2 separate regions of the Homo sapiens genome follow, and region 2 is linked to region 1. Evidence: fine-mapped expression QTL. Tissue or cell type: lymphoblastoid cells. Region 1 holds a variant in brackets; the other region holds the start of a gene. All regions are shown on one strand. Distances are between the middles of the regions.

Region 1 (8,102 bases):
TGCCCACCACCACCCCCAGCTAATTTTGTATTTTTAGTAGGGATGGGTTTTCTCCATGTTGGCCAGGCTGGTCTCAAACTCCCGACCTCAGGTGATATGCCCACCTTGGCCTCCCAAAGTGCTGGGATTACAGGCGTGAGCCACTGTGCCCGGCTGGAGATAGGGTTTTTAACAGAAGTAACCAAGTTAAAATAAGGTCATTAGGATGTATCCTGACCCAATATGACTGGTGTCTTAAAAGAAGGAATAGACACATGCACACAGGGGAACGCCATGTGAACATCAAGGCAGAGATCTTTGCTGGGTACTTTTCATGAATTTGGCTGGGATAACTGGGCTTGCTTGGCTCGCATCCATGTGGTCTCTCATCCACCAGCAGACTAACCTGGGCTTGTTTTCCTAGAGGTTGGGCAGGGTTTTGAGACAGAATAGAATTTTAAAAGGCCTCTTGAGGCTCAGAACTATCACAGTATTGCCGGGTGCAGTGGCTCACGCCTGTAATCCCAGCACATTGGGAGGCCGAGGCAGGCAGATCACTTGAGGCCAGGGGTTCGAGACCAGCCTGGGCAACATGGTGAAACCCTGTCTCTACTAAAAATACAAAAATTAGCTGGGTATGGTAGCACATGCCTGTATTCCCATGAGGCTGAGGCAGGAGAATCGTTTGAACCTGGGAGGCAGAGGCTGCAGTAAACTGAGATTGTGCCACTGCACTCCAGCCTGGGCGACAGAGCAGGACTCCATCTCAAAAAAAAAAACAAAACAAAAAAAAACCGAAAACAAAAAACTGTCACAGTGTCACTTTTGCTGAAGCAAAAGTTGTGGTCTAAAGCAAGTCACAATACTAGCCCAGATTCAGTGGGGTGGAGATGCTGCAGAGTCACATTGTGGGGGGAATAGTGAGCCATTTTTTGCACACAGTCTACCATCGTGGCCTTCCCTGACTATCCTACCTAACACAGCCCTCCCCTCCATCCCAATTACACTGTTTTACCTTTTTTCCTGGCATTTACCATTATCTGAAATTTTATATATTAATAATTTTGTTTCTTTTCAGGATGGCAGTGCCTGGACTCTTGGCCTTCATTGCCATATCCCCAGAACCTAGGCAGTGTCTAGCACTTATTAGGCCCTGAAGGAATTTTTGAAAGAATAAAGAAATCATGTAAAAAGAATATGCATGCTGGGCACAGTGGCTCACACCTGTAATCCCAGCACTTTGGGAGGCCAATGAGGGCAGATCATTTGAGGTCAGGAGTTGGAGACCAACATGCCCAACATAGTGAAACCCGGTCTCTACTAAAAATACAAAAGTTAGCTGTGTGTGGTGGCATGTGCCTGTAATCCCAGCTACTCAGGAGGCTGAGGCAGGAGAATCACTTGAACCTGGGAGACAGAGGTTGCAATGAGCTGAGATTGTGCCACTGCACTCCAACCTGGGTGACAGAGCGAGACTCTATCTCAAAAAAAAAAAAAAGAATATGCATAGAAAATACCAGATGATTAGCTGGGTGTGGTGGTGTGTGCCTGTAGTCCCAGCTACTTGGGAGGCTAAGGTGAAATAATTGCTTGATCTTGGAAGGTTGAGGCTGCAGTAAGCTGTGATCATGCCACTGCACTCCAGCCTGAGTGACAGAGCAAGACCCTGTCTCAAAACAAACAAACAAAAATACCAGAAGAAACATACTCTAAAGTGTTAATAACTTCCTCTGTTGAGATAACCATTTAATTTTCTTTATGTTTTTCTGTTTAAAAAATATAACATTGTATTTTTTAACAGGGGAGATAGAAATATTCTACACATCTTGATTTGGGTAGTGATTACATGGGTATATACAATTCTCAAAACTCTTTGAACTGAGCACTTAAGATCTGCATTCTATTGTATGTTTTTTATTATTATTATTATTATTATTATTATTATTTGAGACAGAGTTTTGCTCTTGTTGCCCAGGCTGGAGTGAAATGGCACCATCTCTGCTCACTGCAACCTCCACCTCCCAGGTTCAAGCAATTCTCCTGCCTCAGCCTCCCAAGTAGCTGGGATTACAGGTGCACACCACCACGCCTAATTTTTTTGTATTTTTAGTAGAGATGGGATTTTGCCATTTTGGCCAGGCTGGTCTTGAACTGTTGACCTCAGGTGATACGCCTGCCTTGGCATCCCAAACTGCTGGGATTACAGGTGTGGGCCACTGCGTGGGGCCTATTGTATGTTAATTATATCTCAATAAAAAATAAACACACAAGCAATATACTTTTGTACTTCCTATTGTCTAATAGCATTTAGAATATATAAGTAGGGGCTGGGTGCGGTGGCTTGTGCCTGTAATCCCAGCACTTTGGGAGGCCGAGGTGGGTGGATCACGAGGTCAGGAGATCGAGACCATCCTGGCTAACACAGTGAAACCCCATGTCTACTAAAAATACAAAAAATTAGCCGGGTGTGGTGGCGGGCGCCTGTAGTCCCAGCCTCTTGGGAGGCTGAGGCAGGAGAATGGTGTGAACCTGGGAGGCAGAGCTTGCAGTTAGCCGAGATCACACCACTGCACTCCAGCCTGGGTGACAGAGTGAGACTCCATCTCAAAAAAAAAAAAAAAATGTATATATATATATATGTAGGATAAGTGGAAGTAGGTGAAAATCTAAGCTCAGTAGCACAAATATAGCTATTAAATCAGATCATAGGCCGGGTGTGGTGGCTCACGCCTGTAATCCCAGATTTTTGGGAGAATGAGGTGGGTGGATCCTTTGAGGTCAGGAGTTCGAGACCAGCCTGGCCAACATGATGAAACCCACCTCTGCTAAAAATACAAAAATTAGGCCGGGCACGGTGGCTCATGCCTGTAATCCCAGCACTTTGGGAGGCCAAGGTGGGTGGATCACCAGGTCAGGAGATCAAGACCAGCCTGGCCAACATGGTGAAGCCCCATCTCTACTAAAAATGCAAAAATTAGCTGGGCATGGTGGCGCATGCCTGTAATCCCAGCTACTTGGGAGGCTGAGGCAGGAGAATCACTTGAACCCGGGAGGCAGAGGTTGCAGTGAGCTGAGATTGCGCTACTGCACTCTAGCCTGGCAACAGAGCGAGATTCCATCTAAAAAAAAAAAAAAAAATTATCCAGGCGTGGTGGCAGGCACCTGTAGTCCCAGCTACTTGGGAGGCTGAGACAGGAGAATCGCTTAAACCCAGGAGGTGGAGGTTGCAGTGAGCCAAGATCACGCCACTGCACTCCAGCCTGGACAACAGAGCAAGACTGTCTCAAAAAAGGAAAAAACAAAACATCAGATCATAAATTGAACTTATAATTTTTTTGCTTTTTTTTAGACGGAGTCTCGCTCTGTCGCCAGGCTGGAGTGCAGTGGCGCAAGCTCCGACTCCCGGGTTCAAGTGATTCTCCTGCCTCAGCCTCCCAAGTAGCTGGGATTACTTGTGCACGCCACCACGCCCAGATAATTTTTGTATTTTTAGTAGAGATGGGTTTTCACCATGTTGGCCAGGATGGTCTCAATCTCCTGACCTTGTGATCTGCCCGCCTTGGCCTCCCAAAGTGCTGGAATTACAGGTGTGAGCCACTGTGCCTGGCTTAAACTTGTTATTACATAATATTTTTTTAAAAGGCCGGGTACAGTGGCTCATGCCTGTAATTGCAGCACTTTGGGAGGCCGAGGCAGGCAGATCACTTGAGGCCAAGAGTTTGAGACCAGCCTGGCCAACATGGTGAAACTCCGTCTCTACTAAAAATACAAAAAATTAGCCGGTGTGGTGCCGCAAGCCTGTAATCGCAGCTACTTGGGAGGCTGAGGCAGGAGAATTGCTTGAACCTGGGAGGCAGACGTGCAGTGAGCCAAGATTGCACCACTGCACTCTAGCCTAGGAGACTCCGTCTCAAAAAAAAAACAAAGAAAAAGCTCTTGGACACATTTGCACATAGACATACACACAGCACCAATTTACATCTGCCAAATTAATACTGCTTTATAATATCCTCTAGTAGTTTGTAAGATTTTTGTTCTAGGCTTTCTCTCTCCCCATGTGTTCTATAATAAATTGAAGCTGCAAATTAAGCCGATCCCTCCAGAATATCCAGTTTCCAGTTAGCCTGTTTATGCCCTTTTGACTGTGCCTCTGGGGGCACTAGCAGAGTCTGCACTCTTACAGAGAGAACACCTTAGAGCCTGGATAGCCTTGTTCCAGAAGCGACTTTTCCAATGGAGCAAATGTCCATGAGGCTCTGGATAAAGGAACTGAGATGTCAGTGTAAATGGCTGCTGTGGGCTGGGCCCCAAGCTCCCCAGGGTGAAGGGGCCAGCACAGTCCATTGAAATGAATTCCCAAGGCCAGCCCTTGGGTATAGTGGGGGGAAACCCTGTGGCTTTCCTCTTCCTTTCTCTTTATCAGCTCAGGCGCCCCATTGAAGTGGGAAAGGAGAGAGGGAGAAGTTAGAAAACTCCATGAGAAGAGGCTAGGGTTGGTGGCTCACGCCTGTAATCCCAGCACTTTGGGAGGCCGAGGTGGGCAGATCACCTGAGGTCAGGAGGTCCAGACCAGCCTGGCCAAGATAGTGAAACCCCATCTCTACTAAAAATACAAAAACTAGCTGGGCGTGGTGGCGGGTGCCTGTTAATCCCAGCTTCTCAGGAGACTGAGGCATGAGAATTGCTTGAACCCTGGAGGTGGAGGTTGCAGTTAGCCAAGATCGTGCCACTGTGCTCCAGTCTGGACAATAGAGCTAGAGACCCCTTCTCAAAAAAAAAAAAAAAAAAAAGGGAAGGCTGGCAGAGGGTG[G/T]ATGTTCAGGACCCTGGACTCACACAAAAGTGGCCTCAACTCAGTACTCTCCTTTCCCAAAACAACAAAATCGAACTAGGAGCTGTGTCTTTTACATTCCCAAGTCCCAAAGTTAGGGGAGATAGTAGAGCAGAGTGGTGATAAGCCCAGGTTTTGGGGTTAGATGATGTCAAGATTGAGAATTGACTGAGTGTGGTGGACTGCAACTGTCATCCCAGTGCTTTGGGAGGCGGAGGTGGGAGGATCACTTGGAATTCAAGGTCAGCCTGGGCAACATAGCAAGATCCCATGTCTACAAGAACAAACAAATTAGCTGGGCATGGTGGTGTACCTGTAGTCCCAGCTACTCAGGAGGCTGAGGCAGGAGGATCACTTGAGCCCAGGAGTTTGAGACTGCAGTGAGCTATGATCGCGTCACTGCACTCCAGCCTGGGCGACAGAGACCTTGTTTATTAAAAAAAAAAAAAAGAAAAGAAAAGAAAAAGGGCCGGGCACAGTGGCTTATGTGTATAATCTCAGCATTTTGGGAGGCTGAGGTGGGAGGACCACTTGAGCCCAGGAGTTCCAGATCAGCCTGGGCAACATAGGAGACCCCCAAAATAAGAAAAAGTTAGCTGGGCATAGTGGCACGCTCCTGTGGTCCCAGCTACTCAGGAGGCTGAGGTGGGAGGATCGTTTAAGTCCAGGGAGGTTGAGGCTGCCATGAGCCATGATCACACCACTGCACTCTAGCCTGGGCAAGAGTGAGACCCTGTCTCTAAAAAAAAAAAAAAAAAGAAGAGAGTGAGAGGGCTGGGCACAGTGGCTCACGCCTGTAATCCCAGCACTTTGGGAGGCAAAGACAGGTGGATCACCTGAGGTCAGGAGTTTGAGACCAGCCTGACCAACATGGATGGAGAAACCCTGCCTCTATGAAAAATAAAATAAAATAATTAGCTGGGCCTGGTGGCAGGTGCCTGTAATTCCAGCTACTCAGGAGGCTGAGGCAGGAGAACTGCGTGAACCCAGGAGGCAGAGGTTGCAGTGAGCTGAGATCCCGCCATAGCACTCCAGCCTGAGTGACAAGAGCAAAACTCTGTTGCAAAAAAAGAAAAAGAGAGAGAGAATGGCCTTTATCACTTACCAGCTATGTGACCTCAGTCAGTGCTGGTCGAGTCCCATCCTGTTTCCACTGCGCCCTAGTTTCTTGCTGTGTAAAATGGGTTCACCGTAGGACCTGACAGGATTGTTGTGAGGACTGGATGAAACATACAAGGCAAGTGCTCAGCACAATGACTGGGCGGTAGGTTGTGTGAGCTAGCAGTGTAATCAAACACATCAAAACCGCAGGACAGGGCTTACTTCCATTTTTCATTCTCAGCAAGTGCAAAGGGGCTATCTCGGCTCTACGTCCTACTAAAATCCAACACAGGTTTGGGGTCTCTAGATTACCGCTCTGGCTTGCCTGATTAGGACAACCAGTGCTGGAAAAGAGGCCCCTCATAGGGATGTCCTGCTGGGATTTTCCTAGTCCACTTGGGTTCACACACGCTAACGGTAATCCAGTGAGGCTCATTAGCATCCCTTACCTCCCTTCCCACGAGAATGTTATGTCAGAAGGTGAAAAGGAAACTTTTTAAAGAGTTAACCAAAAAGGCAGCCCTCTCCTGTGGGCCATAACGGAGCTAACCGAGAAGGAGGAAGGGATGGTGTGGATGATTTCTTGGGGGGACTGTTCTGTTTTTGAAAGCGGTGGAGCATTCTGATTGACAATGGTGAGGGGCAGAGGGGCCGCAGTGAGAAGAAAAGGACAGGAGTGAGCCGTAGCATTACTCTAGCCAAACAGAGCCAGGAATCTCGCCAACGAGAAAGTGCAGGATTGGCAGCAACCGAGAGATCCCGCATGGACTTTTAGGAAAGATTCTAGGCCACAGCACGGGGCCTCCTCCGTCTCAGCCAGGATAATTCTGGCATCAGCCCCCGGCCCAGGCGTGTTCCCACATAATTGAAGTCGAATGTGCTGGGGGAGAGGCCTCCGCATTCCTCCTGGCTGTGGAATCCTCAGTGCCCTGCAGTTGGCCCTGTTTGGGATCAAAGCCAGTTCGTGTTGATTTTCCGCAGCATGGAAACAAATGCGACGAAGCTGTTTTCCTGAGGCAGGCATTTTGAAAAGAGGATCTTAATTTTTTTCCCCAAGGACAGGTGGGGTGGGGAGGTGGGGGAGTGCCACGTGGCTCCTCTCTTGCTGTCCCTTTTGCAAACAGTTGGGCTCATAGTGTCTGCATGAGCAGAAACTGATCAGTTAGAATATGAGTGAATACAGCTACAGCTAAGGTTGCTTCTATCACAAAAGATAATTCCTAAAAAATGCTGCCGGAAGACCCTCTGGCTGCGTGTGATAAGTCACAATTTGGTTGCTCTCTGTTGGAGTGTTTCCAAGATAGCAACTCTCCTTTTTCCTCCTAAAATTTTCTGCTTACATGTCTTAACTTCTAGGTCTTTCTCTGTAATCTGTTGTGCCTGTAAAATTAATTCCTGTCCCTTCTTTTTAGTTAGCACTGAAGCCTTTTAGTGCTAAGCATTATGCTAATGATGTAAACTGATACAGGCGAGTTTCTTAAGTTGTGGAAACATCTTTATTTATTTATTTTTTTTAGACAGAGTCTCGCTCAGCCGCCCAGGCTGGAGTGCAGTGGCGTGATCTCGGCTCACTGCAACCACCGTCTCTCTGGTTCAAGTGATTTTCCCGTCTCAGCCTCCTGAGTAGCTGGGATTACAGGCACCTGACATCATGCCCGGCTAATTTTTTGTATTTTAGTAGAGACAGGGTTTTGCCATGTTGGCCAGGCTGGTCTCAAACTCCTGACCTCAGGTGATCCGCCCGCCTCAGCCTCACAAAGTGCTGGGATTACAGGCATGAGCCACCGCACCCGGCCGGAAACATCTCATTCTTTTACAGGGGACTTGAGTTCTCCCAGTTCTCTAGGGAAAACCTGAACTTTTGCCTATTGGGCCATAATCAAGGGATTGAGAATTAGAACCAGGAGTTGATATAGCTGGGAGAGCAGTGGTGCGATCATAGCTCACTGCAAGCTCGAACTCCTGGGCTCCAGAGATCCTCCTGCCTTAGCCTCCTGAGTAGCTGGGACTACAGGCATGCGCCACCCCTGGCTAATTGTTTTTAATTTTTAGTAGAGACAAGGTCTATGTTGCCCAGGCTGGTCTTGAACTCCCAGCCTCAAGCGATCCTCTTATCTCGGCCTCCCAGAGTGTTGGGATGACAGGTGTGAGCCACAGCACCTAGCCTGGGCTCTTCCTTTTTAAATTAGGAAAC
Region 2 (8,102 bases), 230 kb before region 1:
ACACGGGACTCTCACACCCAATCATAGATTATAATCACATTCTTTTTTTTTTTGAGACGAAGTCTCACTCTTGTCACCAGGCTGGAGTGCAATGGTGCAATCTCGGCTCACTGCAACCTCCGCCTCCCAGGTTCAAGCAATTATCCCTGCGTCAGCCTCCCAAGTAGCTGGGATTACAGGCACCCACCAGCACGCCCAGTTAATTTTTGTATTTTTAGTAGAGACAGGGTTTCACCATGTTGACAAGGCTGGTCTCAAACTCCCGACCTCAGGTGATCCATCTGCTGCAGCCTCCCAAAGTGCTGGGATTACCGGCATGAGCCACCGAGCCTGCACTATATTCAACATTCTTTATCAGTCGTTGCTATGTGGAGGTACCTCCCCCACTCCTAAGCCCTCAATGTGAGTTTTCTCATCAAATTCCCCCTCAACCCAATGGGGTCAGTCCTGTCACTGTCCCCATTTTCCAGATGAGGAAACTGAGGCCCAGAGAATCTATGTGACTGCACAGCTAGGAGATACAGAACAGAGAACTCTTTTTTTTTTTTTTGGAGACGGAGTCTCGCTCTGTTGTTGCCAGGCTGGAGCACAGTCGCGTGATCTCAGCTCACTGCAACCTCCCCTTCCTGGGTTTAAGCGATTCTCCTGCCTCAGCCTCCCGAGTAGCTGGGACTACTGGCACCCGCCACCACACCCGGCTAATTTTTGTATTTTTAGTAGAGATGGGGTTTCACCATATTGGCCTGGCTGGTCTTGAACTCCTGACTTTGTGATCCACCGCCTCAGTCTCCCAAAGTGCTGGGATTACAGGCCTAAGCCACCGCGCCTGGCCCACTTTTTGAATTTTTATGAGTATATAGTAGGTGTATATATTTATGGAGTATGTGAGGTATTTTGATACAGGCATGCAATGTGTAATTATCACATCAGGGTAAATGAGGTATCCATCACCTCAAGCACTTATCATGTATTTGTGTTTGTACTAGTTAACTTTTGTTGTTATTTAAATTATTATTAATACGAATTGCTAATATGAATATTAATAGCATTGATCATTGTTAATTTATTGCTGTTGACTCGTGTTGTAATCGTTATCTTTTTAATTTTTTTTTTTTTTTTTTGAGACGGATTTTCACTCTTGTTGCCCAGGCTGGAGTGCAATGGTACGATCTCGGCTCACCGCAACCTCCACCTCCCGGGTTCAAACAATTCTCCTGCCTCAGCCTCCTGAGTAGCTGGGATTACAGGCATGCGGCACCACACCTGGCTAATTTTGTATTTTTAGTAGAGACGGGGTTTCTCCATGTTGGTCAGGCTGGTCTCGAACTCCCGACCTTGGGTGATCCGCCTGCCTCGGCCTCCCAAAGTGCTGGGATTACAGGCATGAGCCACCGCGCGTGGCCTGTAATTGTTATTAATCCTGTGAGTCTCCGGCTTTCTGGAACTTGGCCAGCAGGAGGTGTTGGTGTTTTTCACAGCAAGAAGGAAGGGCGGTTGGACCTGCTCCCCTAAGACGGCCTGGCTTGTTTCCGGGAGCTACGGATCAGTCATGGGAATTTGAATAACCCTTTCTCTCCTTAGGTCCCAGTGACCTGCCGAGTGGGAAGAGCCGTGGCTGGCCGGCCTCCCAGTGGCGACGACGACCTCGCTGTGTTCGTGGCAGCGGCACTCTCAAATCTGGGCACGGTGATGGGAAGGTTATTTGTTGGAATCCCTTTGCCTTTCCAAGGGAAAATAAACACAAAAAGTGAGAAGTCTTGGGGTCTCAGCGAGCGCCAAAACAAAAAACTGGACTCTGGCGGGGATGTGGGCAAGAAGCGACTAAGCGAGGAAGGAAACCAGTTTGGGCCTCCGAGAAATCTGGCAGGCGAGAAGGTTTGAACCGTGATTAAAAAGGGGAAGAACCACAAGTCCCAATTTAAGTCAGCAGAGCTGCTGTCTGGGCAGTGAGAGGGAAAGTGCTTGTGGCTGGCAGATTTCAGCAGCCATTTGGCATTGGCTGGGTACCGGGCTGCTCTGTGGGTGCTGCCTGGCAGCTGCATGGCTACAGACAAGTAACTGTTCTCTCTTGGCCGCAGTGTCCCCAGGTATAAGAAAGTGATCAAATAATATGGGATGATCCATTCAGACTTTTTTTTTTTTTTTTTTTAGAGACAGAGCCTACCTCTGTCTCCCAGGCTCGAGTGCAGTGATGCAATCTTGGCTCACTGCAGTGTCCACCTCCCAGGTTCAAGCGATTCTTCTGCCTCTGCCTCCCCAGTAGCTGGGACTACAGGTGCGTGCAACCATGCCTGGCTAATTTTTGTATTTTTAGTAGAGACAGGGTTTCACCCTGTTGACCAGGCTGGTCTCAAACTCCTGACCTCAGGTGATCCGCTGGCCTCAGCCTCCCAAAGTGCTGAGATTGCAGGTGTGAGCCACTACACCCGGCCTCGTTTAGACTTCATTGACATTCCCCCACCCCACCCCTCTTCCCACATCCTCAGATGCCGTGTGAACAGCTTGAATCCCACACTCCACAGGTCCTTCTCCTCACAACCCTCCATGGCACCCTACTGCCTTCAAAATAATTCCCAAAGTCCCCACCAAGACCTTCAAGACACCATGTGATGGGCCCACCTTTGAAACATCATCTCTTACCAGTATAGGTGTCACCACTGCCTTTATGACTTTATTCCAAAGCACCACATGTATTCCCACCTCAGCACCTTTGCACATGCTGTTCCTTTGGCCTGGAATGCTCTTCCCTCAGACGTTATAGCACCTGGATCCTTCTTGTCATGGAGGGTTCTAAGCTCACATGTTAGTTCCGCAGAGGTGTCCTTCCTGAGCCCTGGATCTAAGACATCCCCTTCCAGCTCTCCATCCCGTAACTGTTTTGTCATTGTCATAGCTGATCCCACTTGCTTATTCGTGCCTTATGTCCCCCCACTAGAATATCAGCTCCACGCAGGCAGGGATATCTGTGTTGTTCACTGCTGTGTTCCCAGCGCCTAGAACAGTGCCTGGAAATGTGCGGAAAGCAGATTTTTGTGGCCTTTTTCTTCAAGGTCATTGGACACCAGGAATCCTGTAGCAGACCGCTCCCTTCCCCCATCTACTCGGAGTCTGGAAATCCCCACCTTCTGGGGAACCCCTTCCTGTAGTTCTAAGGTCAGGACTGGGGCCGATTTGTTTAACACAGAGAGCTTCCTGGAGCCAAGCCTCGAGCTAACTGCTTTAATGCATTAACTCACTTAATTCTCACTGCCAGGAGAGTGGGTACACATTATTTCCATTTCATAGGCAAGGAAGTGGAGAGGTACGGAGAAGTCAAGTCATTTGCCCGGGTAGGAAGAGGGGGAGGCAGTGGAATGGAGACACTTGCTGCCTGGGAAGACTCGAGGTGGCCCCTCCAAGCTGGGGGCGTGGGCGACTTGTTTCCTGTTGGGGGAGGGGGAGAAGAGTACATTCCTCCCTCCCCGCCCTCCCACATGTTGGGGGAGAGGCTGGCTGAGAGCATGTCCCACTCCGGACTAGGGGGAACCCCACTGTCCGTCTCAGCTCCCCATGAGGCCGTGGAGAAAATGTAAGTAGCCCGGGGGCGGGCAGGGGGGTGGGCGCAGAGGCCACGGAAGCCAGCGGTCGGAGAGGGCTTCCTGGAGAAAGATGCACCCCTCCTAGAATTGGGGGACAGGACGGGCGGCCGGAGCGAGGCTGGGCTATACGGGCACCGGCTGTAGCAAAGGCAAAGCTGAGGGCTGGGGCCAGAACCCAAATCGGGGGCCTGGGGCCGTGGCGGGTCGGGTCAGCATGATCGCAGATAGTCAGGGTCGGGCAGGGCTGGGCTCCCTCCCTGGGGCGATGATGAAAGCCGTGGTCGCTATTGCACCGCCCAGCCCTGCGGGCACTGATAAGGCCCTGCAGGAGGGAGTCAGCAAGGGCGCGCCCCCTGGAGGCCAGGCCCCTCGACCCTGCCCGCCCTAGGCCCCGCCCCTTCATCTGGCCCCGCCTCCAGGCGCTGAGGCACCTGGTGACCTGCCGGCGTTGAGTGGGTGGGGCTAAAGTCGCCCCGCCCCTCCGATCCTCACTTCTATCTTCAGACTGTGGGACGCGAAATCGGGTGGGCACGTGGTGGGCGTGGCTTCGCAAGGCCTCGCCTTTTTCCGGACCCGCGCCAGGAGAGCCCTCCGACCCTGGCAGCCGCGGACTAGCGGGATTGGTAGGCGGGGCCAGTCCGGGCTCCGCCCTCATGGCCCGCCCCTCCAGCCGAATCTCCGACTCGCGCGCGGCCTGAGGCGTGGCTCCTGGTGGCCCCGCCCCTGCCCCGCCCCTGTCGCGGCCGGCCTCCCCCGCCGGGCTCCGCTCGCACGGCCGGTTCCTCTTTACATAACGGCGCGGGGCGGCATGGGCCCGGGCCACCGCCTCCGCCCGGCTGCCCGCCCGGACTGTCGCGGCCCGCGGTGGCGACGGCGGCCGCTGCAAAGTTTCCCCGGCGGCGGCGGCCCGGGGGCGCATCCTCCCGCAACTGTCAAGCGCTGGCGGCGGAAATGATGAGGCGCTGGCCATTTTCCGAGCCCGGGTTTCCTGCCTGAGCCCCGCTCGAGCGAGCCGCGAGCGAGGAGCCGGCGGGCGGGAGAGGACGCGCCCAGGGCGGGGGCCCGCCCGCCCCCTCGGGATTTCGAGGGCCCGGGGGCGCGCGACGCCATGGGCCGGCCGGGCCCAGAGCTCCTGTCTCTCAGGTGAGCCCGCGTTTGCCCGCGCTCCCCTCCTCCGGGGCCGGGAGGGCTTTTGTGGGGAAAGAGGAGGCCCCGTGTCCAGTTCTGCCCGGGCTCTGCGCGTCACCCCCAGCCCAAAATACTGCCCTGCAGCCAACTCGGATGGAGGCGTTCCGGGGTGACGGCTCCCAGCGCCTACGACCCCCCACTCAGCCACTACCCCCACCCACACACGTGTTAGGGAGAGCGTTGGGGTAACTGAGGCCGTGGGATGGGGGAGAGGGCATCGCTGACGCCCCCAGCCCACCCTACGGTAGCCTCGCCGGTTGGGGGCGGCCCTCCCCTCAACTTGTGCCTGGGGAGGAGCGGTCAGGGGTCACCCATTGCTACCCTGAAAGTGAAAGTAGTCAAACTGAGGCTGTGAGCACAGATGAGCCCTTGGGTGTGGGGGCAGCGGGGGAGGATGCGCCGGCCCCTCCCCACTCCCCATTCCGGGCCATGTGGCTAAGAGGGTAGCGCCCTGATTCAGGAAGCCCCTCTCCCCAGTTCCTGCACTGCCGAGGTCGACCGGGCCAGGCCCCCGCATGCTGCTGAATTGGGCGGTTCACCAGGGCTAGGCGTCCCAGAGACAGGTTTCTGGTATTGATCCTCTCACACCTCTTGCCTGGGGTTCCCTGGGAATCCCCCGACCAAAAAACGTCTGGAGTGGGTGTTGGTCTTCTAGATCCGCACGGTAGGGATGGTATTTCAGAGGTCTCTGATGCCTGGTGCAGAAATCCCCTTCCCTCCCTTCCCTCCCTCCGGCCAGGGGAGCTTTGTTTTGAGGGAGGGGGACTGCATTTGAGGAACTGGAGAGGAGGGTCTGCCTGCCTGTCCCGCTTCTTTTTTTCTTTAGTTTCCTCATTCTCCTGTTTCTCTTCCCCATTCCCAGCCACAATGATGTAGGTGAGGAGGTCACTGCCTGCAGCTGGGGGCCTCCAGGGAGGGGCACGGCCAGGCTGGGCTGAGTGGGAGGAAGTGAAATCTGGTGGGGGGTTCAGAGCAGAGGCCCCGGCAAGGCAATGTCGGCAAGGCCAGCTTTGGTGGCAGGAGGGACCGAGATCTGACCCGCAGCCCCTCGCCGGGGAGATGACAGTTCCCTAACACCGGCTAGCAGCCAGGCCTCAGGGCCCCTGCCAGGGCAGTGGGCCTGTGGGTCTCCAGGGATGCAGGCGCAGGTTGTGTCTGGGTTTCCCATCACTGACCTGGCTGCCTGAGTGGAAACAGCTCTGGAGGCTCCTCGGGACCTGCCCTCGTGGAGGGAGAGCCGTCAGAGGCCACCTGGGCAGGCTGGGCTCGGAGGATGAGAGCCAGGGCCTACTGGGGGAAGTTGGAAGGGTTTTTAGTGCACTTTTCCTGAGCCTTTTCCCACTACCCCCTCTGGGAGGGAAAATCCTTCTGAGCCAAAGGGTGAGCATTCCTAGAACTTTTGTGAGTCCCTGTGGGCCACAGAGCGGCCAGCTGGGAAGGGGCTGGCTCAGAGCATCAGCAGCTGGGGGCTCAGGGTCTGCAGGGGCTCAGCAGGAAGTGGAGGAGGATAGTGAGGAGGGTCCTGGAGACTGTGCTTTGCTACTCCTATTGCCTTCGTTCAGCTGAAGGCGTGGGCAAGTGACTCTGCCCTCAGTTTCCCTCTGTGTAAAATGGGGGAGTAACAGGTTTGCAGTGGAGATTTAATGAGCCAGTGTGTAATGAGCACCTGCTGCCTGGCAAAGAGAGGTTCAGTTGCAGGTGGTGGTGGTGGTAGTGGTGATTTTATCATTGCCTTCATTAGTGTTACTGTTATTGGCTATGAGGTGTTCCTTCAGTAGTCTCCCTTGAGCATCTCTTGCATACATAGCACTGGAATTTCCTGGGTCTTTGGGAGCAGAATTTTGAAGATCTGGGCACTTCCTTAGCTATAAGGCCTTGCTTAACTGCCCCACCTCAGTTTCCTCATCTGTGAAATGGGTGTGCTAATAGTACCTACTTCCTAGAGTCATGGGAACCATGAATGAGTGAATTCACAGTGTCCAGAGTGGCTTGGTCAGGAGGAAGAGAAGAAGTAGCCTTGGGGCCGGAATGATCTTTTTTGTTGTGGGTGTTAGCTCTGCTGGCTTTCTTTCCTCATCCCCCCACCCCCACCCCCATGCCTCTCAAACCTGGGCCTGATCCTCCTTCTCCGATAAATAGAACTTTTGAGTACAAATCAGATCCCACAGGACTGCTGGGCCCTTGGATTTCTGGCTCCCGCTGTGCCACCCCCAGACATTCTCCATATCCCAGGTGGAGCAGAGCTGGAGGCACTTGGAGGGACCTCCTCGCTGCCAGTCTCAGTGCCACCTGTCTGTGGTGAGGGGAGACCGGGTGCCCTCCCCAGCCAAGGTGGGGAGGGTCAGTGAAGGGGGTCTCAGGGACATAGTAGGGAGCTGTCCCACAGTCTGGGCCAATACAGCTCCTTTTGCTGGAAACACCTTTGGGACCCAGTTTACATGACCCCACACCCTTCTGAGGGCTGGTGTTCATGAGGGTCTCCCATTGCTGGGGATCCTTGGGTTGATCACTTAAGCTCTCTGAGGCAATTGAGACAACATCTGTGAAAGGCTTTAACAGCTGTGCACTTGCTGTGACATGGCACATAAGGCACTGAGCGCTGAGCCTGGCACTCAATTAACAATAGTAGATATTATTGCTATTAATAAAACAAGAGGCTTTTCCTGCTAAATTCCCACTTCTCCCTGGTAGCAGTATGGACTTTGGGGCCAAATCTGGGCTCTGCCAGCTTCCAGGTGTGAGGTCCTAGGCAGGTTACCTGGCTTCTCTGATCTGGACCTCGCCTGCCCGATGGAAGCCAAGAGTTCCAGCCTCCCCAGGGTTGGGTGTGTGAAGTACAGTGTCAGGACTGGAACTGTGTTGGCTGTACTTGCTCTGGCTGTGTGATCTTGGGCTGGTCCCTTAGCCTCTCTGAGCCACAGGTCTTTTTGTCTATGAAATAGGGGGGTTGCCAACTCCCTGTTAGGGTGGTTTTGAGAAAAGGAGGCATGCACAGTGCCCGGCATGCAATTGGCACTCAATAAGTGCAAGCCATTGCTGTTCATGCCCAATAGGGGCTGGCACTTAATTGCCAGGTTTCCTGGGAAAACGGTCCCCAAGGGCCCGCGGGCGTTCAGCATCTTTGACGAGGCAGGGCAGGAAGCCGCTGCCGTCTGGCAGACCGGAGACGCCTGCCTCGGCGAGTCCAGAGGTGCAGTGCTAGCTGCTCATTCCCTGCAAGGCCCCATTCCTCACTACCCACCCTTCCCAAGGAAACTGAGGCGGGCAGGCTGCCCAGGGGAAGTGACTCAGCCGGGGTCACTTGCTGAGTCAGGCCTTATTGGACCCAGGAGTCCT

Evidence for each region. PIP is the estimated chance that this variant, and not a neighbour inherited with it, causes the effect.
Region 2: it holds the start of SH2B3, and the variant in region 1 is fine-mapped to the expression of SH2B3 in lymphoblastoid cells (GTEx, PIP above 0.99).

What each region holds. Positions count from the first base shown.
Region 1 is chr12:111,629,650-111,637,751 of GRCh38, forward strand. No RefSeq gene overlaps it. Among named protein-coding and RNA genes, the nearest start is that of ATXN2-AS, 34 kb to the left of the region's middle. RefSeq lists an enhancer at 5,770-6,373. The variant G/T (reference allele first, on the strand shown) is at 4,790.
Region 2 is chr12:111,401,557-111,409,658 of GRCh38, forward strand. SH2B3 (SH2B adaptor protein 3) reads left to right here and starts at 4,367. Exons shown (of 8, transcript NM_005475.3): 1 at 4,367-4,721. LINC02356 (long intergenic non-protein coding RNA 2356) reads left to right here. Exons shown (of 4, transcript NR_187522.1): 4 at 1,582-1,754. RefSeq lists an enhancer at 1,574-1,823 and silencers at 3,846-4,005, 4,126-4,705.